Homo sapiens: one gene and its partners. The protein of the gene in region 4 interacts with the protein of the main gene of each other region in a pairwise test. Each region holds a gene or a part of one and is shown on either strand. Other genes may lie near its edges. The genes, in order: ZNF490, LZTS1, CDC73 and TSGA10.

Region 1 (7,823 bases), on a different chromosome or scaffold from region 4:
TCAGTGGAGGCCAGGATTGATAGCTTCCCCATTTCGGGTTTTGGTAGACAGGAAGGACGGTGACCCAGACACTGAAAAATACCAGCATGCTGAACTTAAGGATTGGCTTATTGAAAATGTCAGGCAAGTTCCTGGCCAGAAAAGCCACATTGAAGCTCCCATGAGCCAAGGAACCCAGGATTCACAGAACAGTCAATAACCAAATCGTGGTTTTATGTGAAGATGACATATTCAGGCTCAGATTATGTATCCACATGCATGAAGGCTGTAGTCATTCCCCATGAAATTCCTCCCACTTCAGCATCCCAAAGTGTTGGGATTACAGAGTCACTTAGATCAGGGAACTGATAGCAATGACAAAATTAGGTACCCCCGACACTAACCCGTGCCTTATCCGTCTCTTGCATGTTTACCTTGAAGGTCAGAACTGCAGTGATCGTTTTGTCCAAACTATGCAAACAAGTAAACATGACTCCAAATTTGTGGTTTTTGTGTTTTTTTGAGACAGGGTCTCGCTCTGTTGCCCAGGCTAGAGTGCAGTGGCACCATCACAGGTCACCGCAGCCTCAGGTTGAAGCCATCCTCCCGTCTCAGCCTCCCGAGGACCTGGGACTATGCCACCATGCCCAGCTAATTTTTTATCTTTATTTATTTATGTATTTATTTATTTATTTATTTATTTATTTTTGAGACAGAGTTTCACTCTGTTGCCCAGGCTGGAGTACAGTGGCGCGATCTCAGCTCACTGCAACCTCCTCCTCCCAGATTCAAGTGATTCTCATGCCTCAGCCACCCAAGTAGCTGAGATTACAGGTGTGCCTCCCACCATGCCCAGCTAACTTAAAAAATATTTTTAATAGAGATGAGGTTTCAGCATGTTGGCCAGGTTGGAAACCAACTCCTGGCCTCAAGTGATCCACCCACCTTGCCTCCCAAAGTGCTGAGATTACAGGCATGAGCTACTACACCCAGCCATTTTTTTTATTTTTTGTAGAGACAGAGTCTCACTACATTGCCCACACTGGTCTCAAACTCCTGAACTCAAGCAATCCTCCTACCTCAGTCTCCCAAAGTGCCAGGATTACAGGCATGAGCCACTGCACCCAGCCCAAATGTGATATTCCAAAGGATGCAGGTGGCTGTGTTGGGATGGCCAATGAAGGTAAGGGACAATGGAAGTACAGGGTGAGGGCAATGAACAGGACATACCTGAGAGCCTGGTTATTGGCCTTGACTATGGGAGTGCCTTCACAAAGACCCGAAAGACCCCCCCACAAAGAGGTCATAGAAGGACAGACCCAAATGGTCATTATAAACAAGGAAGGTAGCCACGCTGACAGGTAGCGATCTCACTTACAGTTTGAGTCTTGATGCTTTGTCCATGGTGTTCACTGTTCTGCATCTAATTAGAAACAAGAGGATGCATTTTGTGAGTTTCAGCAATTTAGAACTAAACATGACCTTTGACAGCCTTGGAAGCATTGTTCCCCCTGCATCTACCTGTACACACAGAGCTACCAGAAGGGTGGATCATGGGAGTTTTCAAGATTACACTGTCTCCTCTATAATGGGAAAAATGAAATATGTTTCTACTTTAAAAAAAAAATTTAGAGACAGTCTCTCTCTCTCCCAGGCTGGAATGCAGTGGCACAATCTTGGCTCACTGTAACCTCAAACTCTTAGCCTTGAGATCCTTCTGCCTCAGCCTCCGAAGGAGCTAGGACTACAGGTGAACACCATACCCAGCTAATTTTTAAAAATTTTTTGAGAAATGGGGTCTCGCTATGTTGCCCAGGCTGGTTTTGGGCTCTTGGTCTTTCCAAGTTCTGTAGGGACACTTTAGAAAACTTATTTGAGATAAATTTCCTTCCACTTTACAGCAACACGGATGGAACTGGAGGCCATTATCCTAAGTGCGATGATGCAAAAACAGAAAGTCAAAAACTGCATCTTCTTACATATAAGTGGGAGCTAAACAATGGGTAAACATGGACATACAGAATGGAATAATAGACACTGGAGATGCCAATAGGTTGGACAGAGAGGGGGGATGAGGGATGAAATATTACCTATTGGGTACAATATACACTCTTTGGGTGATGGGTGCACTAAAAGCCAGACTTCGCCACTATGAAATATATCCACGTAACACAAGTGCATTTGTAACCATAAATCTACAAAAATAAAAATAAAAATGAAAAGCAATAAAAACATGCTTAAACTAAAAACAAACAAACAAAAAAACAACGAAAACAAACCATTTCCTTCCAGAGTAAAACGCAGTTTACTGAGCACGTCTCATAGATCGTGATTGGTCTGAAGAGTCCCTGTGCCCAGGTTAGGGTTGCAATTTACCACCCGAGCCAAGTGCTCGGGTGTCCTACGGATTGTTTTTTCTTTCTTTCCTTTTTTTTTTTTTCTTGGGATGGGTTCTGGCCATGTTGCCCAGACTGAACTCAAACTCCTGGAGTCAAGCGATCCACCCGCCTCAGCCCACCCACCCCCCGACCTCCCCCACCGCCCCCACCACGCAGTAGCTGGGACTACGGGTGTGCGCCACCAAGCCCTGCCTTGGGGTTCCTTTTCTAAAGTGCCAAATGTGTGGAGGTGGGGAAAAGAAAGGTGGACGCCTCAACGCTGTTATGGTCAAAGATTAAAATGCAACCACACTTTTTATTACACATGATGGGGTAACCGTCTGTTTATAAACAAGGGTCACTATTCCACGAGAGGCCTTACAACATTATGCCAAGCCCCTGGTACCTGGAGGACATCAGACCCTCCTGTTCCTGTGCGGCCTTGACTAGACGACCACTTGCTCTGGACTTGCTCCTCGAGGGGTCGCTCCATCTGGAAACTGAGACTGGAATTCCTGCGCATCCCTGTCCCCGCATCCAGAAACACTGCAGGAAGACTTCCGTGTCCGACCCGAGATCCGGAACAATTTCTGCTTCAACACAATTGTCCACGGAGGGCACCAGTTCCGTCCCACCGGCGGAAGCGAGATCTGCCTAGCTACTAGACCTGCTGCCTAGCTGTCATTCGGACAAAAAGGGGCGGGGCTGTATAATTGTCCAATCAGGGGCGGCGCCGGAAAGGAGGGTACGGCTACGCTGCGCAAATGCGTGCTACGTCACTGTGCGATCGGGTTGTGCTTAGCTTGGGGTCTCCTGGCCCCTTGACGCGTCAGGTTGCTGTACCCCTGCATCGGATGCGCTGTACCCTGCGCTGGCTCCGTGAACCTTAGGGACAACACCGGGACACCCGCGAGGCCGGAAAATGGTGAGTGTGCAGGGCCGGACTAGTTGGAACCGGCCGTGATCGCGGGACCCGGGCCTCCCCACGGTCACCTCCGGCCGCAGTGTGGGGCTGGGCTGGCAGCTGGAACTCCAAGCGTCCTGTCCCGTCCCTGCGCGGCGACTGCGGTCCCAGCCCCGGAGCCCTCTCTGGACAACTCCGCGCCCGCAGCCCCGCGTCTTTCCCAGATCGTGCAGGGACCACGGGAGGGTCCTGGGGAGAATCCCGCCTTGTGTGTTTGGTTTGTGTGGGAGGAGCTACAGTCTGGGGTTCCCAGTCCCTTCTTTCTTCCCAAAGGCTGTTTCCCCCTGAGTCTTCCAAAGATGTTGGAAGCAGAGTCTCAAATCCACTACCCTGTCCCCCCAGCCTAGCTCCTCCCACGGCGGGCCATTAATCCCTAGATTTCCGGATCCCTCCCCGAATTCCCAAACGCCTACTTCCGCTCGCCAGTGGAAAACATCGTCACCAACTCTTTGTCCTGTGTGGTGCATTTCAAACACACGCAGTATTTTAATAATCTTTTTTCCAATAGATGCCTCTTTTAAACGATTTATTTCTTGTTTGTGGATATTTTACATCAGAGAAAAATCAGAAAAATTATTCACTTGGAACTAATCTGCATAAAATGCTGTGGCCCTCATCCTGGTACCTTTCCAGGGCACAGACATCCTATGGGAACTCCTTTGCGTTGAGGTTCCTTTTTGTAAACTTTCCTGGGTAATCTATCTTTTCAGCACAGTTTCAGATTGGCACTGTCCCGCCTTGGGTTTATGACCTTGAAAAGATTTATTCACTCGAATGTCATTTTTCCAATAAATATAAAATATATGTTATCAGAAGAACTTGAGAGACAGTACAAAATATTTCCAAAGGGCAAAAAAGAAATGAATCTCAGAAAACAAAAAACATCCCAATATTACATTTGTTAAAAATTCTTTGTTCTTTCCCTGAGCACATGGAATATGTTTCTCAGGTCTGTTCTTTTAGTTTGATGTTTCAGATGGTATTCCAGGACTTAAACTTGCAACATCTAGAAGCATTCAGATAGAAGTAATACTTTTGTAAACTATTTATTGCCATGGAAATAATTAACTGACATTATTATTTTCTTTTTTTTTTTTTTAACAGATGGGGTCTGGCTGTGTTGCTCAGGCTGATCTTGAACTCCTGGGCTCAAGCGATCCTCCACCCTCAGCATCCCAAAGTGCTAGGATTCCAGGCATGAGCTACTATTACCGGCCCAACATTCTCATTTTCTGAAAGCAATAGTGGGTTTTCTTGTTAAATGGCTTAAAATTTTCTTGCTTCCTTCCTTTATTTATTTATTTATTTATTTATTTATTATTTATTTACTTTTTTTTTTGAGACGGAGTCTAGCTTTCTCGCCAGGCTGGAGTGCAGTGACACGATCTCAGCTCACTGCAACCTCTGCCTCTCGGGTTCAAGCGATTCTCCTGCCTCAACCTCCCAAGTAGCTGGGATTACAGGCACAAGCTACCACGCCCAGCTAATTTTTGTATTTTTTTTTTTTTTTTTTAGTAGAGAGTGTTTCACTATGTTTCCCAGGATGGTCTCAATCTCCTGATCTCCTGACCTCATGATCCTCCCGCCTTGGCCTCCCAAAATGCTGGGATTACAGGCATGAGCCACCACGCCAGGCCTTTTGCTTCCTTTATACGTAAACACTGTGTTTAAGTAATTCTGCTGGATTTTTTTTTTTTTTTTTTTTTTTAAAGACCAAGTCTTGCTCTTTTGCCCAGGCTGGAGTGCAGTGGCACAATTTTGGCTTACTGCAACCTCCGCACTTGGAAGCTGAGGAGCCACAGGCAGATGCTGTTAGGGGAAGAGGGGAGGATGTCTGAGGTTTTAATTGTGGTTTCCTTGGGTGTGTTTTTAGACATTACATTTGAGTTTCACATCTGTAAGGTAGGTACACTGAGTGTAATTGGTGCATATTGACAGCCATTCTCCTGCCTTAGCCTCCCAAGTACCTGGGATTACAGGCACACACCACTATGCCCGGCTAATTTTTTTGTATTTTGAGTAGAGGCGGGGTTTCACCATGTTGGCCAGTCCGGTCTCGAACTCCGGACCGCAGGTGATCCACCCGCCTCAGCCTCCCAAAGTGCTGGGATTATAGGTGTGAGCCATCGTGCCAGGCCTTCTGCTGGATGTTTAAGGAACAATCCTTAAGAATTTAAGGGCCCGGCACGGTGGCTCATGCCTGTAATCCCAGCACTTTGGGAGGCCAAGGAGGGCGGATCACGAGGTCAGGAGCTCGAGACCATCCTGGCTAACATTGTGAAACCCCGTCTCTACTAAAAATACAAAAAATTAGCTGGGCGTGGAGGCGGGCGCCTGTAGTCCCAGCTACTCTGGAGGCTGAGGCAGGAGAATGGCGTGGACCTGGGAGGCGGAGCTTGCAGTGAGCCGAGATCGCGCCACTGCACTCCAGCGTGGGTGACAGGGTGAGACTCCATCTCAAAACAAAAAAAAAATTTAATTAAATTGTCTCATTTAAAATTACTAGTAGTGTTCCAGAGCCTTGTGACTGGGGAGCAGAGGCCTGAGATAAGTGATTCCAAGCTAAGTCCACCTTTGAGCCTGCAAAGAAAGATCATTGAAGGCCCAATTGGTTCTTCCTGGGGAGCCTCCCCTACAGGTCTGCCAGCTACTCATATGCCCACCATGGAAGGATCCTCTTGTACTGAAAGAAACTGCAGAGCACTTGGAAGCTGAGGATGCACAGGCAGATGCTGTTAGGGGAAGAGGGGAGGATGTCTGAGGTTTTAATTGTGGTTTCCTTGGGTGTGTTTTTAGACATTACGTTTTGAGTTTCACTTCCGTAATATAGGTGTACTGGGTGTAATTGGTGCATATTGACAGTGTCTGTGAAGGTCAGGACTTATGTTTCCTAGAGACAGGGTTAATGAATTGGGGAGCTCATTTGCATCAGAACCTCAATCTCAATCTGGTTGAGAGTTTCCTCACTTGGGAAAACGGAAACCTAGGGAAGCTAATGTTTCTTTGCTGCCATAGGAGAGAAGGAGGTGTGGAGCTCCCATAGTTCCTTGCTGATCAGGTGCTTCTATCCTCCATTACCAGGTACTGACCCACTCTAGGGGTTACATTTTTCTTTATTTTTATTTTTTTTGAGACCGAGTCTCACTCTGTTGCCCAGGCTGGAGTGCAGTGGCACGATCTCGGCTCACTGCAACCTCCGCCTCCTGGGTTCAAGCCATTCTCCTGCCTCAGCCTCCAGAGTAGCTAGGATTACAGGTGTGTGCCACCAGGCCCGGCCAATTTATTTTGTATTTTTAGTAGAGACGGGGTTTCACCGTGTTGACCAGGCTGGTCTCAAATTCCTGACCTCAGGTGATCTGCCTGCCTTGGCCTCACAAAGTGCTGAGATTACAGGTGTGAGCCACCACGCCAGGCCGGGGTTACGTTTTTCAAGCTGGGAGAGTCTGGGTCCAAGCTGGGGAATATGTTTAACTTTTTTTTTTTTTTTTTGGAAACGGAGTTTTGCTCTTGTTGCCCAGGCTGGAGTGCAATGGCACAATCTCGGCTCACCGCAACCTCCGCTTCCCAGGTTCAAGCGATTCTTCTGCCTCAGCCTCCCAGGTAGCTGGGATTACAGGCGTGCGCCACCATGCCCAGCTAATTTTGTATTTTTAGTAGAGATGGGGTTTCTCCATGTTTGTCAGTCTGGTCTTGAGCTCCCCACCTAGGTGATCTGCCCACCTTGGCCTCCCAGAGGGCTGGGATTACAGGTGTGAGCCACTGCGTCCGGCCTTTTTTTTTTTTTTTTTTTTTTTTTTTTTTTTTTTGATACAGCGTCTCACTCTGTTGCCCAAGCTGGTCTGGAACTCCTGGCCTCAGGCCGTCCTCCCACCTTAGTCTCCTATGTTCAACTTTTTTTTTTTTTTTTTTTTTTTTTGAGACAGGGTCCCACTCCGTCGCCCAGGCTGGAGTGCAGTGATGTGATCATTGCTCACTGCAGCCTCCACCTCCTGGGCTCAAGTGATCCTCCTGCCTCCTCTGAGTAGCTGGGACTGCATGCATGCACCACAATGCCCATCTAATTTTCGTATTTTCTGTAGAGATGGGGTTTCGCCATATTGCCCAGGCTGGTCTGGAACTCCTGGGCTCGAGCACTTCTCCCGCCCTGGCCTCCCACAGCGCATGGCCTCCCACAATTTCTTGACATCCAAAGATACTTTTGCTGTCTTAAGGTTTTATATTTTCCAGAATGTAATACACGTGGAGTTATTCAGGATATAGCCTTCACAGATTGGCTTCCTTCACTGAGCAATGTACTTTTAAGGTCCTTCTGTGTCTTCATGGCTTGATACCTGATTTCTCTTATCGTTGAACAATATTTCATCATAAGATTGTACCGGCCGGGCACGATGGCTCATGCCTGTAATCCCAGCTCTTTGGGAGGCCGAGGCGGGCGGATCACAAGGTCAGGAGTTTGAGACCAGCCTGGCCAACATGACAAAACCCCGTCTCTACTAAAAATA
Region 2 (6,323 bases), on a different chromosome or scaffold from region 4:
GTGGGCCCGGGATGGTAGGGAAGGTTGTCAAGGGGGCACCAGGTAGGCTGGAACCAAGAAGGCTGGACAGATGGCCATGATGGTGACTGCACCTGCCCCACCAGGGGGCCCTGGGGCAGTGGCAATTGTAGCCATGCTGGTCTTTTGCCAGGAGGCCATATGCAGTAGACCCAGGAGTTGGCTGGTGAGGTGAGCAGACGGTAGGGCATGCAGTTTGGGTGGGGAGGGGCTCTCTTTTGGAGAGGACGCTCTGACTCTACATGGACACCTGTCCCTGGGTCCCTTTTCCTCTCATTTCACAGATAAGGTCCCGGGGTAGGCGATGGGGGCAGGGGCCAGCTGAAGCCTGTCTGACCCCGGGGGCCCCTTTCCCACTGCCCTGTGCTGCCTTCCTCACCCCCTTCGCTGGTGGAAGGGACGTCATCTTTCCTGTTCCAAGGGGAGAAGTCCCAGGGAGCTGCCACACCGCAGCGAGGGGAGAGGAGGGCAGATACACGTGGCTCTAGAGGGCGTGAGAAATGGCATTCTTTATTCATAAATAAAAACATAAAATTGCCACAAATAGTTTACATGGCCAAAAAGTGACGTCAAAAATAAAATGAAGCTGTCAAAAGCAAACCAAACCAAACAAGAAACCACAAAGAGAAAAATAACTATGTACATCTTCCAGATGCTGGTCCGTCCCAGCCTGCCTCTGCTGGGGGCTCCAGCTCTGCCTGCAGGCGCAGCACAAAGGCCACCTTGCACAAGAGGTGGGTGAGCAGCCCCGCTGGCCCAGGGGTGCAGCCTCTGTCATGGCAGCACCCACCGCATGATGGCTTGAGGTCTGCAGGGAAATCCCTCTCCCCAAGCTGCTGCTCCTCCAGCCAGGCCTGGCTTAGTTTCGGGCAACTGTCTCACCTAAGAGATGGCCCAGGCTGGGGCCAGGCACAGGAGGCTCACTGAGTGCCTCTCTGGGGAAGAGATGCCCCCATATCCCAGTCCCATGTGAGCTCAGTGCTATAGGGGCTGTGTGTGCCTGGCAGGAGTTCACTGGGAGAGCTAGGAGGGAACCCCGTGACAGTCCAGTCGTTCCCAGGTCCAGGGGCAGAGTCCGATCCTTGGTGAGGTGATGCGGAGTGCTGCTCTCTCCTGCAGGCGTCCTTTGGGGACAGAGCAGGTTGGTCCATCCGAGTGGGTCAGTGGGTCGGCCAGCAGGCGTGCCCAGAGGGAAGGGCAGGAAGCCCACCCTGTCTGGGGCCTGGGGCCAGGCTCTGTGCTTGGAGGCTTCTGCTGTCCAGAGCCTCTTTCCAGAGAGGCAGAATCTGGCATGGTCCAAGAATAGTGAGGGCGCTTTTGGACAGGGCAGGAAAGAACACCCACAGGAAGGTGAGGTTGCAAGGTCGCAGGATACTTGCATTCTAGTGCCACGGTGGGCCACTCTGGGGCGGGGGCTGGTGGCAGCCCAGGGAAGACATCTGCCACCTTGGACGTAGGACAAGGCCTGGGGGGGACACATCTGGGCCGGCCTGGGACAGGGCCATGGAGATATGGAGAAGGCTGCACTCCTCTGTGTATGGAAGGTACCGGGACACCATGGCGGAGCACAGCCTCCGCCTCAGGGCCTTCCCCTGGGTGTGGCAGCCACTTCTTCTCAGGCAACGTCTGAGGCAGAGCACTGGACTCTGACTGCTCTTTCCTGGAGTTGGGGGGGGGTCTCCAGCCTGGGGAGGGGGAGCCAGCCCTTTCCTCTGTCTCCGTGGGGCAGTCTCACTGGGAGGAAAAACTCAAACAAGGCACGGCCTGGTGGAAATGAAGGAACTGAGGGCTGAGGCGCAAGGAATGGGGCATCTTTGACTTGGGTCTGGACTGTGCCCAATGGAGGGTACTGCCCTCAGGCAGGGAGGGACTTTTGGCTTGTAGATTCCAGGTTTAAGCCTAGCTTGGGACTAAGAGCAATGGTTTGAAATTCCAGAAAAGCTCCTCTGTCGTTTGAGGATGGCAGGATGGGCACCGTTTAACCTCAGGGACAGGAAGGTAGAGCCAGCCACAGAAAAGGTGACTCTGGCCTCAGCCCGCACTCAGGGAAGGGCTAGGACCCATGAGGGCGGGGGGCAAGGAGAGAAGCATCTCCCCACCCCTACCTCGGGGTCTCTAAGGGCCAGCGGTGAGCGAGGCAGAAATGGGGACTGGCCTTGGACTCGCAAGTTCCCAGACGCTCCCCTCCTCATCTCAGCAGGCAGCAGGCGCAGGCATGTGGGAAGGGATGCTGTCCTGAGAACAGCAGCTGTGGCTACAGTCAAAAATAGAACATGGAACAGCCTGCTAGGTCTGGCTTGCTTCTGAAAAGACAAGAAAGCAAAAAAGAAAAAGAAAGAAGAATAAAAGAAAAATCTGGCCAGGCACGGTGGCTCACATCTGCAATCTCAGCACTTTGGGAGGCCAAGGCAGGTGGATTGCTTGAGGCCACAAGTTTGAGACCAGCTTTGGCAACAAAACGAGACCCCGTCCCTACAAAAAAAATGAAAAGTTAGCCAGGCACGGTGGCGCGCACCTGTAGTCCCAGCTAGTTGGAAGGCTGAGGCAGGAGGATTGCTTGAGCCCAGGAGTATGAGGCTGCAGTGAGCTATGATCATGCCACTGCACTCCAGCCTGGGGGACAGAGCAAGACCCTGTCTCATAAAATTAAAAATAAAATCCCTGAACCAAACAACAGAGAAACTCCACCTTTTATCTCTCTCTACCACCGCCTCCCGCTCCGCACATCTGCAGAGAAACCCTGGACTCCCTGGGGCACTGCCCAAGCTCCTGAGAAAGGGAGCTGCTCTCTGGATCCTTTAGTCTGGGACAAATGGGGGTCTTGAGGTGGAGGGAGGATGGCTGGTGGCCAGGCTATTCACACTGCTGTGTGTATGCCTCTTTTTCGTCCTGCTTGGGGCTCTGGCTTCCTGGCGCTCTGAGGAGCCGTCCTGACCTCTAGAAACCCAGAACTCAGCCCTGAAGGTGCTAAGGGGGAAAGGTTTGCCGCTAAACCTGGCTGTAGGCAGAGGAGGAAAATGCCCAGATCACATATATGCCATCTTAGTGATATGGGCTCTTCTGGATCAAGCAAAAGCTTGATTCTGGGGAGGGAAAAACATTCCAGAGTAGCCGCCGGCCAACGTGAAGCAGGTAGGGACTCCCAGCCTCTGGCCCCAGCTGGACAGATGGGGAGGCTCCCTGAGGGTGCCTGGAAAGCCACACCCTCTGGTTCACGGTGGTTTCAACCCTCCCTTCCCAGCACCCAGCCCAGGGCCTCAGGGTCTATGGCTTAAAGAAGAGTGGTCACCGAGGTCAAAGGTCACTGGCTGTCCAGAGGCTGCTCAGCTCCCATTTGCAAGAACCAGTAAACAGGGGCTGGGCCCCAGGGGCTGGCCATCACCCGCCACTGGCTCTCAACCCTTGGATTCTCCCTCTGCCCTCCTCTGGCTGTGGCAGGGTCTCCACACTGCTGGGCTGCCTGTCTCTCCCCTCCTTCCTGTGGCTTGCCGGGGCTGGGACAGCCCTGAGGTTTCAAAGCCAGCTTCCCCGCGGCTCATTCCACCCCTACACCTCTGCGGCCAGAGGAAAATAGCTCAGGTTCTGATGGGGCTGGTTCCAAGGCTTCTGGTCATATATGGCTTCTTTCTATTTCCAAGGCATTCCAATGTGTCCAGGAGGAAAAAGAGGTTGGGATGAGAAGCAGAGGGGAGCCGCTGTACTTGCTGTGGCCACCTTCCCTGGAGGAGGGGGAGAGGATATCTATTTCGAACAAAGGCCAAAGTTTAGGGAGCCCTTAACCAAAGCAGACAGACCCCTGGACCCATCTCCTGGGAAAGCCAGAGGAGTCAGGGCCTGACGTCTGGTGGGCTGCAGGGCTGGTGAGCACTGGGACATCAGAGAGGGAAGGAAAGGCCATCCTGCCCTCCCCTCGGGGGTCCTGGGTCTGTGTCCCAGGGAGTGGCGTCTCTCAGAGGGGTCTGAATTGCTGAGCAGGGGGGATGCACGGGAGAGCCCTGCCTCCCAGTGCCAGGTCCCCAGACTCGCCTTCCCAGGCAGCCCCTCAGATCTCAGTGGCTATGATGTCCTCGTAGGGGATGTCAGCCCCTTCCAGGTCAACCTCCAAGGGCTCCCCGGCGCTGTCCCCACGTGCCAGCTGCTGCAGGGCCTTCTCCAGGCGCTGGTTCCGCTGGTACATGGCCACGTAGCTCTGCTGCAGCTGTTTCTGGTACTGAATCACCTTCTCCTTCTCCTCCTTCCACACGAGCCGCTCATGCTGGAAGCCCGAGGACATCTGGTCATGGCCTTGCCGCTCCTCCCGCAGCTCGGCCCGCAGCCGCTCCAGCTCCCGCTGCAGGGCAGGGACGTCCTCGGGGAAGGTGGGCGGCCCCATGTCGCGGGCCAGGGCGGCCTGGGCCCGCAGCTCCTGCAGCTCCTGCTCCAGCAGGTTCACCTTCTCCCGCAGCAGCTCCGCCTCGTTCTTCTTGCGCTGCAGCTCATTCTCACAGACCTCCAGCTCCAGGCCCTTGGTGCGCAGGGCGCCCTCCAGGTCCTGGGTCCTCAGCTCCAGGCCCTCCAGCTTGCCCCGCGTGTCCTTCAGCTGTGCCTTGAGACCCAGGATCTCGCTAGCCTTGGCGTTCACCTCCGTCTGGGACTCCTTCAGCTGCTGCTTCAGGAGGGAGATCTCGCCTGACTTCTGGCACACCTGCCGAGGGTGGGGTGGAGACAGAGTGCCAAGAGGTGAGTGTCCTTACCCAGGGAAGTGACAGCTCAGCTGCCTAAAATAACCAAGCCACTCCGGATGCGGTGGCCCGGTGTTAGGCATTCCAGCCTTTGTCCAATCTGAAAGTAAGCTGAACATTGCTGTGACCTTTTCCCCAGGTTATCGAGCTAGGCTATATAGTAAAATGATAAAATAATAATAATCATGTATAATGACACATAGTATATTATTATTGTTATTATTTGAGAAGTCTCGCTTTGTCACCTAGGCTGGGGTGTAGTGGCGTGATCTTGGCTCACTGCAACCTCCGCCTCCCCTCTGATTCTCCTGCCTCAGCCTCCCAAGTAGCTGGGATTACAGACACCTGCCACCATGCCTGGCTGATTTTTGTATTTTTAGTAGAGACGGGGTTTCCTCATGTTGGCCAGGCTGATCTCGAATTCCTGACCTCAAGTGCTCTGCCTGCCTCTGCCTCCCAAAGTGCTGGGATTGCAGGCGTGAGCCACCACGCCTAGCCACACAGAAGTATATTATTATAAACATACTTTCACTAATAATTTGTAGTGTTATTAAGTGCCAAGCCATACATTTGCTCATCTATTCCTTACAACCCGATGAAGTAGGTACTATTAGTAGTCCTCAATTTACATCAATGAAACTGAGGCACAGAGAGGTTATGATAGCAAATAGCTGGTGAAGTGACCAGCCTGAGGGCTAATATATATATATATATATATATATATATATATATATATATATATATATATAAAATATAAAGTATAAGAGTAGAGATTTGATCCCAACAGTTTAATCACTATACCCCATTGCCACCATGGCTAATGTATTTACAATCACCTGGATCATAAGTGGTCAAGCTGAGGTTCAAAGCCAGGCCCATGCCTCAGCCATGACTGTGTCACTCCCTTCGTGGCATGAATACAGGGTTGGCCTTGGAATGAAATTCTTGGTCCCAAGCACGCATCCTGGGTAGGGTCGGATTTTCTCCAGGACTGTGCAGTGTTTCACTGAGGGCAAGGGGAAATTTCTACTGTGAAAGGAAATGTGAAGGTGGCTTCCAGGCTAGTTCCAAGAATCCATTCTGTAGAGCCACATGCTCTGGACTTCATTCACTCTTAAGATTCAGCCAGACTGGCCTTGGTCTCCCATGACCCCAGATGGCCAAGATCCAGAGACACATGGGTCTAACCTGTGGCTTCGGTTTTCATCATTGCTCTTGGCCAAATTTTGATGGGGGATAGGGGTGGAAATAGAGAAGAAGAGCAAGAGGAGAAGACAATGATTCCTCGTTTGACAGATGTGGATTGGGCTCTGCATCCAAGCCAGCATGATACTAGTCACTGGGTACAGCAGTGAATTTGTGAGGTAGTCTTTACTCCAGTAGACAGGAGAGAGGAGGGCTGGGTGCATGCAGGGGTGAGGTCAGAGGATGTGGGCATAAACGTCGATGACGGAAATCAGGCTGACACCAAAACCAATACCATTGGTGTTAAATGGGGGTGATACAGCTGCCAGCAGTGGGCAAGTTAAACCACTGGTTGTTGACTTGCACATAGCCAGGGGTTTGCGTGTAGACTGAGAGTTG
Region 3 (7,872 bases), on a different chromosome or scaffold from region 4:
TGCTAACAACAATGAGTTTAACATAGCTAACAAAAAAAAAGTATAAAATCTAATAATGAATAGACTGTCATGATCACAAAAGAAACACAAAGGAAGGCAATGACAAAAAGCAAGAAGTAGGGAAAATACAAAAAATTCATACTCTAAGGTACTACAAACTTTTTAGAATTAGGCCCAAATTAGGCTCTGGGCTTTACCAATAGAGAAATCTAACCAGATCCATATCGAAGAGGATCCATAAGAGAAAACAATTACACTGCTTAGAAGAAGCACAATTATCACTGGTGCTAAATGTAAAAGAAATTTATCCTATGGCTCTTGATAAATAAGATACTGCTGAACAACATCCTTCACATTCTTACAGTAAACACAACACTGAATTTCAGGGGTATGACTGTTATGGCATCCCTCAAATTAGACCAATAATGTAAAACCAAAATGCTATTCTACCTGTGATAAAACAATGTAGTCTACTAACGGTGCAAGATCTCTAATGCAGGTACTAATATTACCTCATTCCAATCCTACCCTTCCTTCTACACTTTCCCCTTCTATATCTTTGAATCCATCTGAATATGGTCCACTATAATCAGCCCTAAACCTACTTTTCTACCTTCTAGTCCCATTTTTCCTCTAAACCAATGTATTTCAAACCACACACCATCAATTATTGTACTATGAAACCCAATAAATAGTTAACAACCATATTTTTTCTATTTTCAGAATAGAAAAGAACAGAAAAATAAAATGCACTGCATACAATAAGAAGAGTAAGTATTGTTTAGTGTTTTATATGTGTATATATTTCCATGTGCATGTGCACATATAGAAAATAAAAACAATTTCTTGGTGTGATAAACTGCTGAAAAAGTTTAAAATCTACTGTGATAAGCACTCCTTTTTCACTGGCTTCACTGGATTGCTGTCAACACATTTACTTTCCAGTTCTTTATGCCTTTAAGCATACAGCCTTTAAGTATACAGTTCACTCATCTTGGAAGACTTAACCCATCATTTAGCCCAGAGAATTCCTACCTATTCTTTAAAGCTTGTTTGTTCATTCATTCATTCATTCAAGAAAACTTTGTTGGATGTGAACTTGCCAAAGACAATTCTATGGAACCTTCTCCTAAATAACCCCAACTAGAAGTGACTGCTGTCTTCAAAAGCTATTGTAGAAAGCATTTCACATCAACTTATAGAAAGCATTTCACATCAACTTATCTGTTTAATCTCCTCTATTCAGACTAAGTTAACCTCCTTTGAGGTAGAAACCAGAGTCTTAGGAATTTTTTTAATCCTCAGATTGAACCACTTCACACCCTAGGTACTCCTTAGCCATTGTCTAAAAAAAAAAAAATTCACTAAAAATCCAACCACATGTAATTCTACCTATGCAAATTATTCGAAAGGGTAAAATACCAGAAACTCAGAATGTCATTTGATCAACATTTTATAAAGCTAATTAAATCATAAGACAAAAAAATTTTAAAACCAACCAATAGGCAGGGCGCCGTGGCTCACGCCTGTAATCCAAGCACTTTGGGAAGTGGAGGCGGGCAGATTATTTGAGGTCAGGAGTTCGAGACCAGCCTGACCAACACGGTGAAACCACATCTCTACTAAACTACATAAATTAGCCGGCCATGGTGGCGGGGGCCTGCAACCTCAGCTACTCAGGAGGCTGAGGCAAGAGAATCACTTGAACCCAGGAGGCAAAGATTGCAGTGAGCCAAGATCGCGCCACTGCACTCCAGCCTGGGCGACAGAGCAAGACTCCCTCTCAAAAATAAATAAATAAATACCAACCAACAAACTAAATTTCCCTAGTTTTTCATCGACTCTTCATAAAGCTTCCATTCAAAGAAACAAAATGAGTAGGGAAGTTGTAGCTCAAGGTTCTAATTCTAGAAGCGATGCACCAATGACAGTGACATCATTAAAAAGGCCCCTAATGACTGTTAGAGCCGTCTCTAGAAGTTTTCCTGAATGACTTAAACTGATAAAACTTCACATGGACCAACATTCCCAAACATTTCCCTTTAAAATACACTTCCGAAAAATCACACGCACCATCTATTTCTTAGATCTGTAAAGCTCACTCATTTCACCAACTCCTGAAGACCTCTCTAACACAGACTTTTATGACTCTTCCAAATTCACCAAATTTCTTTCCGGTCCTAACTTCAGGGTTGATTCCCTTTTCTCTTCTACAGGAATCACCCCCACCCCAACAATGAAAGGAGATGAAATAAACCAGGAGTTGCAAAGACCAGCGGAGATAGTTACATAGCAGCCTGGAAAAGAGAAAAAAAAAATAAAGAACAAAAAGAGGCGTCTACGGCACCAGACGGTGTGCTCCTTTGTGCACCTATGTTCAGGTATCCCTTGCGCACCAGTCCCACACTTCGCTGGTACACATACCTACTGATAAAAATTAACTGTAAAAGTCAGAAACTCCCACGGTACCTTTCCTTTGGGCTTCTCAAAAATTTTAAGTGATGAACTGCTCTAGAGCTCCGCCCCTTCTTTCCTTACCCTAAAAGTGCAACTTCTGCTCTAGAGAGAAACTTTCTTTTCCCCGAACACCCGTTTTATCCCATCCCCAGGGGAAACGGGGGGAGGGGTTAAGAAAGAGGTCGCCTGGGGGCGCCCAACTCTGCCCTGCCACCCCTGGGCCACAGCCATGCCGGACTTACCCCCAAACAACATAGTTGGTCTTCACATTCTTGGGCCAGGAGAACTCCCCGAAGATCACTTCGTCTCCCTTCACCACAATCTCCTTCTTCTGGATGTTGTACTGTCGCAGGACGCTAAGCACGTCCGCCATCTTCCCCCCCCTCGCCTCCGCCGGCTCGGGGCGCCGCCGCTGCCGCCGCGCCTGCCTCCTTCTTCTCTTGTCGCCTCGCCCTCTTCCTCCTCCTCCTTCGCCGCCGCGACGAACCAACAGCAGCAGCACTAACAGCCGTCCTCGCCTACGACAGCAGCAGGGGCAGTAGCCACCCAGGCCGCCGAGGACCCCGCGCTGTAAGGCAAGGCCCCGCCGCCGGCTGCCCGCGGAGAACGCCTGACTGCGCCCCTCCAGCGAGGCACATCCGCCGCCAGGGGGAGCCGCGACCGCCTGGAAAAGTGCCCCTCCCAGACTTCAGCTGGGCACGGAGCCCACTCACTCGCTGAAACGCTGAGCGCTGGGGCACCGCGCCCACGTACGGCGCACGTACGGGGAACTTTGCCGGGCGCGCGCGCGCGGAGCACGTACCCAGTACCCCGCGGCGCGCACCAAGCGGCGTCAGGTGCGCGCGTACCTGAGCAGTGGGTCAGCACTTCCATCCCCAGCACGTGCACTGAGTATTTAACGAACTGTCTCGGGTGCGACCAGAGGCTCCCCCGGGTCCCTGCTTTGGCCGGGATGGAATTCGGCAAGGATTTGCGGAACACTAGAATTACCTTCCTATTTAGATCGGACCCAGGCCTAGCCAAAGACCTCTAGGACTTAGTGATCCGGAGAAGCCCTTTTGAAAGAGTGGGGCTCTTGGGGTTGGGGTTGGGGTTTTTTGTTTGCTTTTGATGTGGAAAAGAACGAGTTTTGGTTTTTTGTTGGTTTTGAGTGGAAAAGACCGAGTCCAGAAAAAAAAAAAAACAGTTCTGGGCACTGCTCGTCAAGTTACATAGCTTCTCACAGCATCAATTGGTTAATGAAGAAAATGGGGTTAATACGAAGATAAGGTAAACGCGCCTAGCAAGTCAATAAAATATCCTAAATGTTGGATCCTCCCTCTTCATTCTTTGGATGATGACTTTTTCCATCGCGGTCCCTTCTCCCCGCCAATCCCGAAGGGCTATATTCAAAAGGCTGTGTTCCAAGATGTAAATGGGAAAGTTGCCCTAACAGAAACCCCAAACGGTCCAATTTAGAACACTTCCAGACTACCCAATTTTTTAAATGGTACTCAGAAGTCTCAGTGGTGTCCTTGACATGCGTTTTGAGACGGTTAAGATAAGTTCAATATACTATGGCCAACCAAACACATCCTATGGGATTGTTTTTTTTCTTTTACCATGTCAGAAGGAAAAAAGAGGCAACTTTGTGTTTGACATAACCAAATTCCTTGACCTGTTTTGAAAAAAGTCAATCTTTTCACAACGCAGAGGACTACAGATACAGAAGTGTGTGGTTCATTTCCGATATGATCTGTAGCCATTCTGCAACTGTTAGTTTGTGAAATTTTTTTCTGTTCCACCAATGTTTTCACCCCGTAGTATTCTCCTGAATCTCACCCCAAGCACACACATTATAAAGAAATGGCTACAATTACCTATCCCCACATTCTCTATTCATACCTGTGTCAGAGCACTCAGTACCATATTACTTCCCTTTATAGTTTATTTGCCTGCATCCACAAAACTGAAACACCATAGATCTGTGTCCTCATATCCTACTGTCTAACATTATTTGGTACATATTAGTAATAAATGGATGAATTCAATAAATTGATGGAAGCTCCTAGTAAATATCGAGTTAATACATGGATAGAGGCTTCTAATAAATGTTGAAGTAATGAATGGAAAGATAAGCTCAAGGAAGCCAAGATTTCATGATTAGGAGGCTCGACTATAGTCCCTTCAAACGATACTTAATTTTATTTCATACTCAAATAATGATTAAAGTCTCTCTTTTCAGAGAAATTATGTTTTTTAGGTTAATGAATTTTAAAAAGTGGTAAGATAAGTCATTAGTAAGTTGTTGCTTTTAACAGTTAAAGCATTGAAATTTGTAGATCATTTTTTTCCTGACCAGCCTGGGCAACATACCTAGACCCTGTGTCTACAGAAGCAATTGTAGATCATTTTTGTTTTTATCTAAGTACCCTTATAATTGCCCTACCAATACTGGTTCATTGGAGGATGTCAAAATACAATAAAAGGCAAGATTAGTGGTAGAGCTGAAAAATTAGAAAATTAATTAGAAAAAAACAGAAAAATAGTCTGGTTTCTTTGTCTTGGGCAAAAGCAGTCCACATCTCCAGATATTAGCTCCTGAAGAATTCCTAAAAAATCTTTAGTTTTATGTCTTCTGTTAGAGTAAATGCCCAGCAATCAGAAGAAAGTGGTATGTCTTTTTAGTTGGAAACGATGGATCCAACATCATTACCTTGGAGTTTAAACCACTACCTCAATTGCTAACAGTACCCAATAAGGTTCTTTCCACCAGTGCCCAAGGACAGTTTTATTCTGGTTCCTTTTCCAAAGGACCAAATTGCCAGGTTTTAGATCAATCAAAGTCTGCTTAGGTAAGTATTTTGGAAATGCACTTGAACCTACTAGGGATAATTCGGCAGGTAGCATAAGTCTCATGAAGCATTTATTTATATTACTCTGTAATGGTAGAACGTAGGATTGGAAGTAAAATTTTCAAATACATGGGTAGGGGGAGGCTGTTAATTCAAGAAGAGATAATCTGTGGGTCCCAGAAGGGGTTGATTTATTGTCATCAATCAATCATGACTAATGGCAATTTGAAGGGCCATGAAATTTGTTTTTCGAAACTGTTGATAATTTTAGTTTTAGGACTCTGTTAGTTCTCTTTACTTTTCCTAAAGTTTGGGGGAAATCAGTGTGTGGAGTTATAGCTCCCTAGCAAGGAAAAGCCTCAGTCCATCCAGAGAGTAAGCAAACAACAACCCAGACATAGTCATAGTTTATTCCAGGGAATTATTATGGGTTGGGTACTTAATTATGGGTTAATTATTTACTTGATGTCTTTGATATATATAGGTTTATTCAGATTGTCCATTTCTTCTTGTGTGAGTTTTGGCAGATTGTGTCTTTCAAGGGGTTCCATTTTATCTAGGTTATGAAATTAGTGGGATATAGTTGTTCACAGCATTTGTTATTATCCTTTTAATGTTCATGTCATCTGTAGAAATGTCCCCTCTTTTATTTCTGATTTTAGTAATTTGTGTCTTCTCTCTTCTTAGCGTGACTAAGAGGTTCATTGATTTCATTGATCTTTTCAAAGAACCAGCTTTTGGTGTGATTACTGATTTTTTTACTTTCAGTTTTACCAGTTTATGCTTAACTTTTATTATTTCTCTTCTTTTGCTTACTTTAGATTTAATTTGCTCTTCTTTTTCTAGTTTCCTGAGGTAGAAGTTTAGATTATTGATTTTTAGGTCTTTCTTCTTTTCTAATATATACATTCAATGCTACAAATTTCCCTCTAAACACTACTTCGCTTCCTCCCATACACTTTGGTAAGTTATGTTTTTATTTTCTTGCAGCTCAAAATATTTTAAAATTTATCTTGAGATTTCTTCTTTGACTCATGTTATTTAGAAATGTATTGTTTAAACTCGACATATTTTAGAATTTTCTCGCTATCTTCCTATTATTGATTTCTAGTTTAGTTTCATTGTGGTCTGAGAGTAGATATTGTATGCTTTATATAATTTTAAATTTACAAAAGTGTCTTCTATGGCCCAAAATGTGGTCTGTCATGGCGAATGTTCCTTGCATGTTTAGGAAGAATGTTTATTCTGTTGTTGTTGAATAGTCTATAGATGTCAACTATATCAAGATGACTGATGGTGTGGTTGAGTTCAATTACATCCTTATTGATTTTCTGCCTGCTGGTTCTGTTCATATCTGATACAGGGGTGTTGAAATCTTCCACTATAATAATGGATTCATATATTTTTCCTTGTAGTTCCATCAGTTTTTTGCCTTATATAATTTGACGCTCTGTTGTTAAGCACGTACACATTAAGCATTGTTCTGTCTTATTGGAGAATTGACCCCTTATCATTACATAATGCTCTTCTTTATTCCAACAAACTTTCCTTGTTTTGAAGTCTGCTCTGTCTGAAATTAAAATAGCTAATCCTACTTTTTTTTATTGGTGTTAGCATGATGTATTTTTCTCCATTCATTTACTTTTTATCTATATGCGTGTTTACATTTAAAGTGGGATTTTGTGGATAACATAGAGTTGGGTCTCATATTTTGAACCACTCTGACAATCTCTTTTAATTGGTGCAGTTAGACCATTGATGTTCAAAGTTATTATTGATAAAGTTGGATTAATATCTACCGTATTTGTTATTGCTTTCTATTTGTTGCCCTTGTTCTCTGTTCCTATTTATATCTGCCACAGTTTTTCTCCTGTGTGTGTGCGTGTGTGTGTGTGTGTGTGTGAGAGAGAGAGAGAGAGAGAGAGACAGGGTCTTGCTCTGTAATCCAGGCTGGAACCTAATGGTGTGATCATAGCTCACGGCGGCTTCAAACTCCTGGGCTCAAGTGATCCTCCCACTGAAACCTCTAGAGCGGCTGAGACTACAGGTGTACACCACCACACCGAGCTAATTTTTAAATTTTTTATAGAGACAGGGACCCACTTTATTTTTTAGGCTGGTATCAGATTCCTAGGCTCAAGAAATCCTCCTGCTTCAGCCTCCCAAAATGCTGGGATTACAGGCCTGAGCCACTGCGCCCAGCTGTTTGTGGTTTTAATTGAGCATTTTATATGGTTGTATTTTGTCAGTCTTTCTTTCTTTCTTTTTCTTTCCTTCTTTCTTTCTTTCCTTTCTTTCCTTCTTTCCTTCTTTCTTTCTCTTTCTTTCTTTCTTCCTCTTTCTTTCCTTCTTTCTTTCTCTCTCCCTCTCTCTCTCTCTCTTTCTTTCTTTCTTTCTTTTTGAGGTGGAGTCTCACTCTGTCGCCCAGCTGGAGTGTAATGGCACAATCTTGGCTCACTGCAGCCTCCGTCTCTCGGGTTCAAATGATTCTCCTGCCTCAGCCTCCCGAGCAGCTGGGATTACAGGTGTGCACCACCACACCCAACTAATTTTTTGTATTTTTAGTAGAGACGGGGTTTCA
Region 4 (7,024 bases):
GTGTTTTAAATTATCTCACTTACTTGGGTGTTCTTCCCGATTACAGATGGGAAGAATCAGAGAGGCTGAGTAGCCTGCATAAATAAAAAGCCTTTTGTTCATTTATGGTATTACATTGCTGGAACCTTAAAATCAGGAAGTGTAGGAAACCACGTGCTTTTCCTACACAGGCTGCTTGCTGCCTGAAAGCAAGGATTGCAATTTAGAAATCCTTAGAATCTCTTCTGTCTCAAAGCCCTTAACAGTACTATGCATACCATAAATAAATGTTCAAGATATGTTTGTGGACTGACATGAAATGATAAAATAGTATAGGTGGATTGATTATTATAATAGGTATAGTGTTACCTACATACCACTCAAACCATTAATGGGAACATCCTCCCTCAATTTTAGATAATATTTTACCTAATAGACATATCTAAAATCCTCAGTAAAGCTGCCTGTTTATTCCTGAGTTGCCACACATGCACCACACTTATTGGAGTCATCTGATGTCATGTACATGTGCCTGGTCAAATGATTGCTAACAGAGAAGTGTGAGGAGAACCATCTGCCTTGTGGTCCTAAAAAAAATAGATGGTCCCATAACAGGGTAACCAATTCTGATCTGCTACATAATCAGGTGGAACCTCTTTTGTCAGAGGTTTATAACTGGAAACCCCACCACTTTCAATTAATTATAAGCGAGGTCAAATTGATTTTAGCCCTTTGTCCATCATCCAGTTAGGAAGATTCTGCTTGTCTAGAGTGGCAGAGTTGCAAAACAAAAGGGGCATATTCTCCAGGCATCTTTCTGAACATTCTAAATATGTAGTTAACCCACCATTGTCAAAACTAAAATATACTATGTATTAAAGAAAGCTTTGATTCACCTGTCGTTCTGAGTATACCAACTTCTAAATTAACTCTAGTGAAAACTAAGTATCATGAGCAAAAAGAAAAAAAAAATACATACTTCAGACTTTAATATATTCTTCAGCTTGTTAACCTCCAAATTAGTATCTTGAACCTTCTGTTTTATGTCATTAAGTTCATTATGAGTGTCATTCAATTTTTTGGACAGTGCCTACGAAAAAAAGATAGGTATATTTGACTATGAAAAATAAAAAATTTCTATATCTCAAAAATACCATAAACAAATTTTTAAACACTTGGAACAAATAAAATTAACATACCTAATATATAAACTCATATAAAAAAAGAAAACACATAAGCCCAATAGCAAGTGGGCAAATGACCCAAATAAGCAATTCAAAAAAGGAAGCATAAGTAGGTAAGACCTGAAAAAAACTCTACTAGCAACTGAAGATATGCTAATTAAAACAACACATTACTATTCTGCTTATCAAATTAATAAAGATTTAAAGCTATTCAGCTATGGTAAAGAATGGGCATTTCCATGTACTACTGGAGTAAATGTAGATTTGCAGAAAGCAAATCTGTGATCAGGAATCTGGTGATGTATCAAGAGACAATTTTTAAATGCTCATAAAAACAAGAAAGACAAAAATGTTGATTATTTTTGAAGGTGGGAAATGGCACATGGGGATTCATTATATTTGAAAATGTCTATTTACATTTTTTTAATTTAAAAAAGAAACCTCAGCTGGGTGTTTTTCCTGTAATCCTGGCACTTTGGGAGGATCACTTGAGCCTAAGAGTTTGAGACCAGCCTGAACAACATAGTGGGAACCCAACTCTACAATAAATAAATAAATAAATAAATAAATAATAATTAAAAAGAAACCTGATAATCTGTGATTCACTCTGAAATGAAATCTAATAAAATTTAATGAGATGCTGTCATTAAGGCATTTGTTACAGTGACAATATTTATTCACATTAAGTGAATCATGCAGTAAATAATAGTATATCTACATAGTGGCATAACCACATAATGGAATATTACATACCTGTGAGAAATGTTTGGAATGATTTTTAATAATACAGGGAAATATTTGCCTATGTTAAGTGAAAAAAAAATCGTGCTAAAACACAAAAATACCTCATTATCCCAATTTGTTAAAAATTGTGGTATCAAGGATAAATTTTTTTTAAGTTTCCACTTTCTCGTCTTCTGCAATACTGGTTCTTAACCTGTGGTCCACAGAGAGAGACCTCTCTTCTACCTTGGGCCTATGACCATAACGAAGAAAAAACTACTTTTGAGCATATGTAAATTGTTATGACAACAGTTTTCTTCTGATTATAAAAAATGTTTACAAAGTTTGAACAAGGCAGGAAAATGCTTACAATATTATAGTAAGCTAATAATAGCTATAAAATATTTATTGAGTGATATACTGGACAGTACAGTAAGTGCTTTCCAGGTATAGTCTCACTTATTAACCATTTTTACAGATGCTACAGAGACTCAGAGAAGTTGGTTTATATGATCACACACGCAGAGAGCAAGATTCAACCCATGTGAATCTTACTCGACTCTACTGCCTCTTCATGTAGAAAAAAGCATGATCTAAAGTGATAGGTGATTTTATCCCACTACATTAGAAAATGTGTATAAAAATAGTGTTAAAATTTTTAAGTGCACTGTATAGCAATTAAAAAAATATGTCAAATATAACAGTAACTGAGTATCAAAAACATGGGGGCTTTTCTAAACTCTTAACTTTTTGTTTAGAAAAAAGACTTTCTATAATAAGCTTCTATTTCTAAACCAATCAAAAAAATAGAAACTAAATTTCTAGGTTTTCATAAATAAGATATATCCACCTTTAGCCCATATGCTCTAGCTGTAAAGAGTACACAAAGGCAAACCTTACAAATTCCCATGTTTTGGTTTTTATTGCTATTCATTAATTTTTTAAATAAACTTTTAGAATAGTTTTAGATTTACAGAAAAGTTGTGAAGACATTATAAAGGGCACCTCTATTGTTAACATTTTACATTAGTATGGTGCATATGTCACAATTAATAAGCCAATATTGACACATTATTATCTGAAGTCCATACTTTATTCAGATTTCTTTCCTTTTTTACATAATGTCCTTTTTCTATTCCAGGATCCCATTATTCATTTACTTTTAAACAAAATACTTTAACATCTCAGATAATTTTTTATGATTAACAAAGTATTACAGCTTTATAGCTGTTTAAGTAAATTAATAATCTTCAACAGTTAAAGAACACAGACTTTCAGGATGCAAACTAAACACACTGAAAGTGATACAAAGTGGGGAAAACCATTTGGTCTTAAAAATTTTGAGAAGGGAAGAAATTTTCCAAATAGGATTTTTAAATGTTCACGTTAAAATAAATGTTATTGGAAATGAGAACTGCAGATTAGACTTAAATATATTGCCTTAGGGAGAAAGAGTAATTATAAGAGGAACTTTCCTAAAAAGAATCACAGTGCTAATGAGAACCAAAAAACAAGGCACAGTCCATACATTCATACTTAAAACAGAATAATATGTAGTCCATTTTTTTAAAAAAAAAACACCTATTCTTTTCTTTAAGGTTTCTCAAGGTTTTTATTCTCATTTTTTGATTATTCAAATATTTATCCTTCAGCAAGGAAGTACTAAGCTTTAATACAAATATAGCCCTGTTCTCTCTTTTCTTTAATATTTAACCCTTTGTGTCTGAGAATTCCATTTAAAAATTATGTGGCCTATTTTGTTATTTTTTAAAAAAAAGAAAAGGCTAGTTCCAGTGTCTGAGCTCTTCTATAAAATAAAATGAGGGCTGTTCCTCACAAGAAATTCATATTTTTTTTTCTTGGAGAAAATGATTCTAGGAACAAGTGTACCTGGTTTTCTTGTTTAGCTTTAGCAAACTGTTCCTGGAGATTGTCATTGTCATGAGCCAAGATATCTCTTTCCCTGGCGATCTGGGCCAGCTCATCATTTGTCTCATCCAATTGCCGACGCATTCTGGAAACGTCTTGTTCACACACAATTAGGGCCTCAGTACACTGTCTATTCCACAAATCAAAGAGTACATAAGAAGAGACATTTTACTGAAACAGAGCAACAAATTCTCACAAGACAGAAGATGGACAGTTAGTATGAAAACATTTGAAGAGATTTTAAACACGTTTGAATTTATAGGAATAAATACTGCAAAGACAGTGCATTAGAGTTTCTCAATGTTGCCATCATTTCGCTATGAAAAGGATACAAAGTATACATAATAGTCAATGATTTGCCAAATATTTCAAAACTTCTTACATCAAGTATTAGGAAGGCTTTCATCCTACTTCTGTTATGGCTTAGTCTCCTTTACAGATTCCTCTTCCTCTGCCCACTTAAAAATTAATGCTTTTCAGGGCTCAAGCCCTAGCCTCCCAATTATTCTCACTCTAACCCTTCTCTCAGACAAACTCTATTCATATCCATGGTTCCCAACCCCATCTAGATCCAATGACTCCAAAATAATTATCTCCAGTTTTAGACCCTCTGTTATACTCCAGACTTATATTTAACTGCTTACTAGACATGTCTACAATAAGGTCCCAAAGGTTCTTCAAATTCAGAGGTAAAATCATTTTTTCTCCTCATACTTTCTTCATGTTCAGTATTTGTCCCTGGCCAGAAACTTGGCATTTTCCTGGTGTCTCTCCCTCATACAAAAGCATTTCACTCCTTCTGTCCCACAACTCCTAAACCCCAATTTATCACCACCTCTTCTGCTTAGGTATCTTTCTAACACAAAATTCTCCTCAGAATTCTTTAATGATTTCTTATTGCCCAAAGGATATAACCAATACTCATTTGTCTGTTACACAAGCCTCTGCCTGCCTATTTAGTCTCCTCCCTTCACTTCTCCCCTTACACTCTAGGTTTCAACAACACTCACCCACTTGTAGGTCAAGAGGCTTGTCAACATGATCTGTGGTTCTTTGCTATTCTTTCTACTTTAAATGCCCTTCCCTTCCCCTTATTTTACTTGGCAAACACCATCCCCTCTTTTAGTTCCTTAGACAGACTTAGGCCTCCTTTGATGAGAGAGTTAGCACCTTACACGTATCATTAAGCCCCTTGTTTCTTACTATCTTTGTACCTAACATGGTACTTGGCCCCCCAGTAAGAGCTCATATATTTGTTGCACGACTGATTTACCTTGATGCCTGTTCCATCTCAGCAATGATATTCTTCATGCCTGAAATGGTCTTTTCCTTGAAAAATAATATAAGTATTAAATAAAAAAATCTTAAGCTGTTATTTCTGTTAAAATTGAATGAACAAAAAGAAAATTTCCCTTTCCCTTTAGGTTTCCATTTGGTTTTAAAAACATGTATGTCCTATTCTTTTCCACACTTTAAAGCCTAGTATATCAATGTGAATATTTGCACTGGGTAAAAATAGATTATGTTCATTAAAGTAAAGGCTATACTTAGGTGTAATTATGAGATCAGTATATCAAATTCTTTGTCAAAAGATATTTTATGCAGTCACCCAGCAATACAAGAACCCTATAACCACCTGTTTTTGGAGGCAAACCAATGGTTTGGCATTGGAGTATTGGCATTTTATACTGGGATTTAGAACTGGTTCTCTTGCTCACATTCTTTATGTTATAAAACCCAGAGAAGCCAATCATGTATACCTAAATTTAGTTTTTAAGAATAATTTTGATTAAGTGTATTATTTATATTAGCCAGCAACAAAATCTTCAAAAAGCTGTTCCAATCCAATTACTTATAGAAGTATACTACTGATATTTAGGTGAGAGCTAATAAGAAGGTAAGCATTAGGCCTCGAGCAAAGGTAAGAGAAATAAACTATATTTTCCTTTTTCAAAGGCGTGATGAGGGAGTAGAAGTAGTGGAGTCAGTCAAGGCAGAAATGGGTTTGAATATCTTAATGCCTTTAATACCATTCCCACACCTCTTTTTAAAACTTCCATTGACCCTGAACTAGTCCAACTATAAACAGATACTTAGAGCTAACATTAGCCCTAAAAAAGTAAGAAAGTTATTTCACTAAGTAATAACTAGATTTCACCTTGCCATTTGAATTTTCAAATTTTAAGTAACTAAGTAAAAAGATTTTTAAAAACCCAAACCTATATTTTCCAACCAATTCTGTTCCTGTTTCTTTTCTTTTTTTTTTTTTTTTTTTTTTTTTTTTTGAGATGGAGTTTTGCTCTTGATGCCCCGGCTGGAGTGCGAGGGCGCGATCTCGGCTCACTGCAACCTCCGCCTCCCAGGTTCAAGCGATTCTCCTGCCTCAGCCTCCCAAGTAGCTGGGACTACAGGCATGCGCCACCATGCCCAGCTAATTTTTTGTATACTTAGTAGAGACGGGGTTTCACTATGTTGGCCAGGCTGGTCTCAAACTCCTGACTTCAAGTGATCCACCCACCTCGGCCTCCCAAAGTGCTGGGATTACAGGCGTAAGCCACTGCGCCCGGCCGTTCCTATTTCTTTAGCGTTAGTTTTACACATATTTGCGTGTGTGTGTGTGTGTGTGTGTGTGCTATCTTCCTTTATTCATGTGCTCTTCTCCAGGGTATTTTTAGCTACAGTTTCCCATTCTGCTTTCTCATGGAATGGTACAGATTCCACATCTGGCAGTAATAGATACTGGTGTGTTGTTAAAATATGCATTAAAAAAAAAGTTAAACCCCTTCAAGAAGGACAAGCCAACGAAGGAAAAACTAAAAGACAAAATACTCCATAAAATGGAATGTTTACACATTTTTGAAATATAATTTAATACATTTCTAAACAAATTCTGAAAAGCTAGTTGAACTAGTGCTTTTGAAAGTCTTTACTTGAGGCCGAATGCGGTGGCTTATGCCTGTAATCCCAGCACTTTGAGAGGGTGAGGCAGGCGGAACACGAGGTCAGGAGTTTGAGACCAGCCTGACCAACATGGTGAAACCCCATCTCTACTGAAAATACAAAAATTAGCCGGGTGCAGTGGTGGGCGCCTATAATCCCAGCTACTCAGGAGACTGAGGCAGGGAATCACTTGAACTCGGGTGGCGAGGGTTGCAGTGGGCTGAGATTGTGTCACTGCACTCCAACCTGGGTGACAGAGACTCCGTCTC

Evidence for each region.
Region 1: the proteins of TSGA10 (region 4) and ZNF490 interact in binary tests that used the Homo sapiens proteins (3 or more experiments, as listed by UniProt).
Region 2: the proteins of TSGA10 (region 4) and LZTS1 interact in binary tests that used the Homo sapiens proteins (3 or more experiments, as listed by UniProt).
Region 3: the proteins of TSGA10 (region 4) and CDC73 interact in binary tests that used the Homo sapiens proteins (3 or more experiments, as listed by UniProt).

What each region holds. Positions count from the first base shown.
Region 1 is NC_000019.10:12,607,801-12,615,623, forward strand, and holds the start of ZNF490 (zinc finger protein 490), read right to left. Parts: upstream 3,014-7,823; 5' UTR 2,881-3,013; coding exon 2,764-2,880; intron 1,403-2,763; coding exon 1,358-1,402; intron 1-1,357. Other genes in the region: ZNF791 (zinc finger protein 791), read left to right, coding at 3,280-3,282. UniProt on the Homo sapiens protein: May be involved in transcriptional regulation.
Region 2 is NC_000008.11:20,245,662-20,251,984, forward strand, and holds the end of LZTS1 (leucine zipper putative tumor suppressor 1), read right to left. Parts: intron 4,703-6,323; coding exon 4,061-4,702; 3' UTR 504-4,060; downstream 1-503. UniProt on the Homo sapiens protein: Involved in the regulation of cell growth. May stabilize the active CDC2-cyclin B1 complex and thereby contribute to the regulation of the cell cycle and the prevention of uncontrolled cell proliferation. May act as a tumor suppressor.
Region 3 is NC_000001.11:193,117,159-193,125,030, reverse strand, and holds the start of CDC73 (parafibromin), read right to left. Parts: upstream 3,001-7,872; 5' UTR 2,831-3,000; coding exon 2,700-2,830; intron 1-2,699.
Region 4 is NC_000002.12:99,067,930-99,074,953, forward strand, and holds part of TSGA10 (testis-specific gene 10 protein), read right to left. Parts: intron 5,145-7,024; coding exon 5,089-5,144; intron 3,946-5,088; coding exon 3,777-3,945; intron 1,070-3,776; coding exon 959-1,069; intron 1-958. UniProt on the Homo sapiens protein: Plays a role in spermatogenesis. When overexpressed, prevents nuclear localization of HIF1A.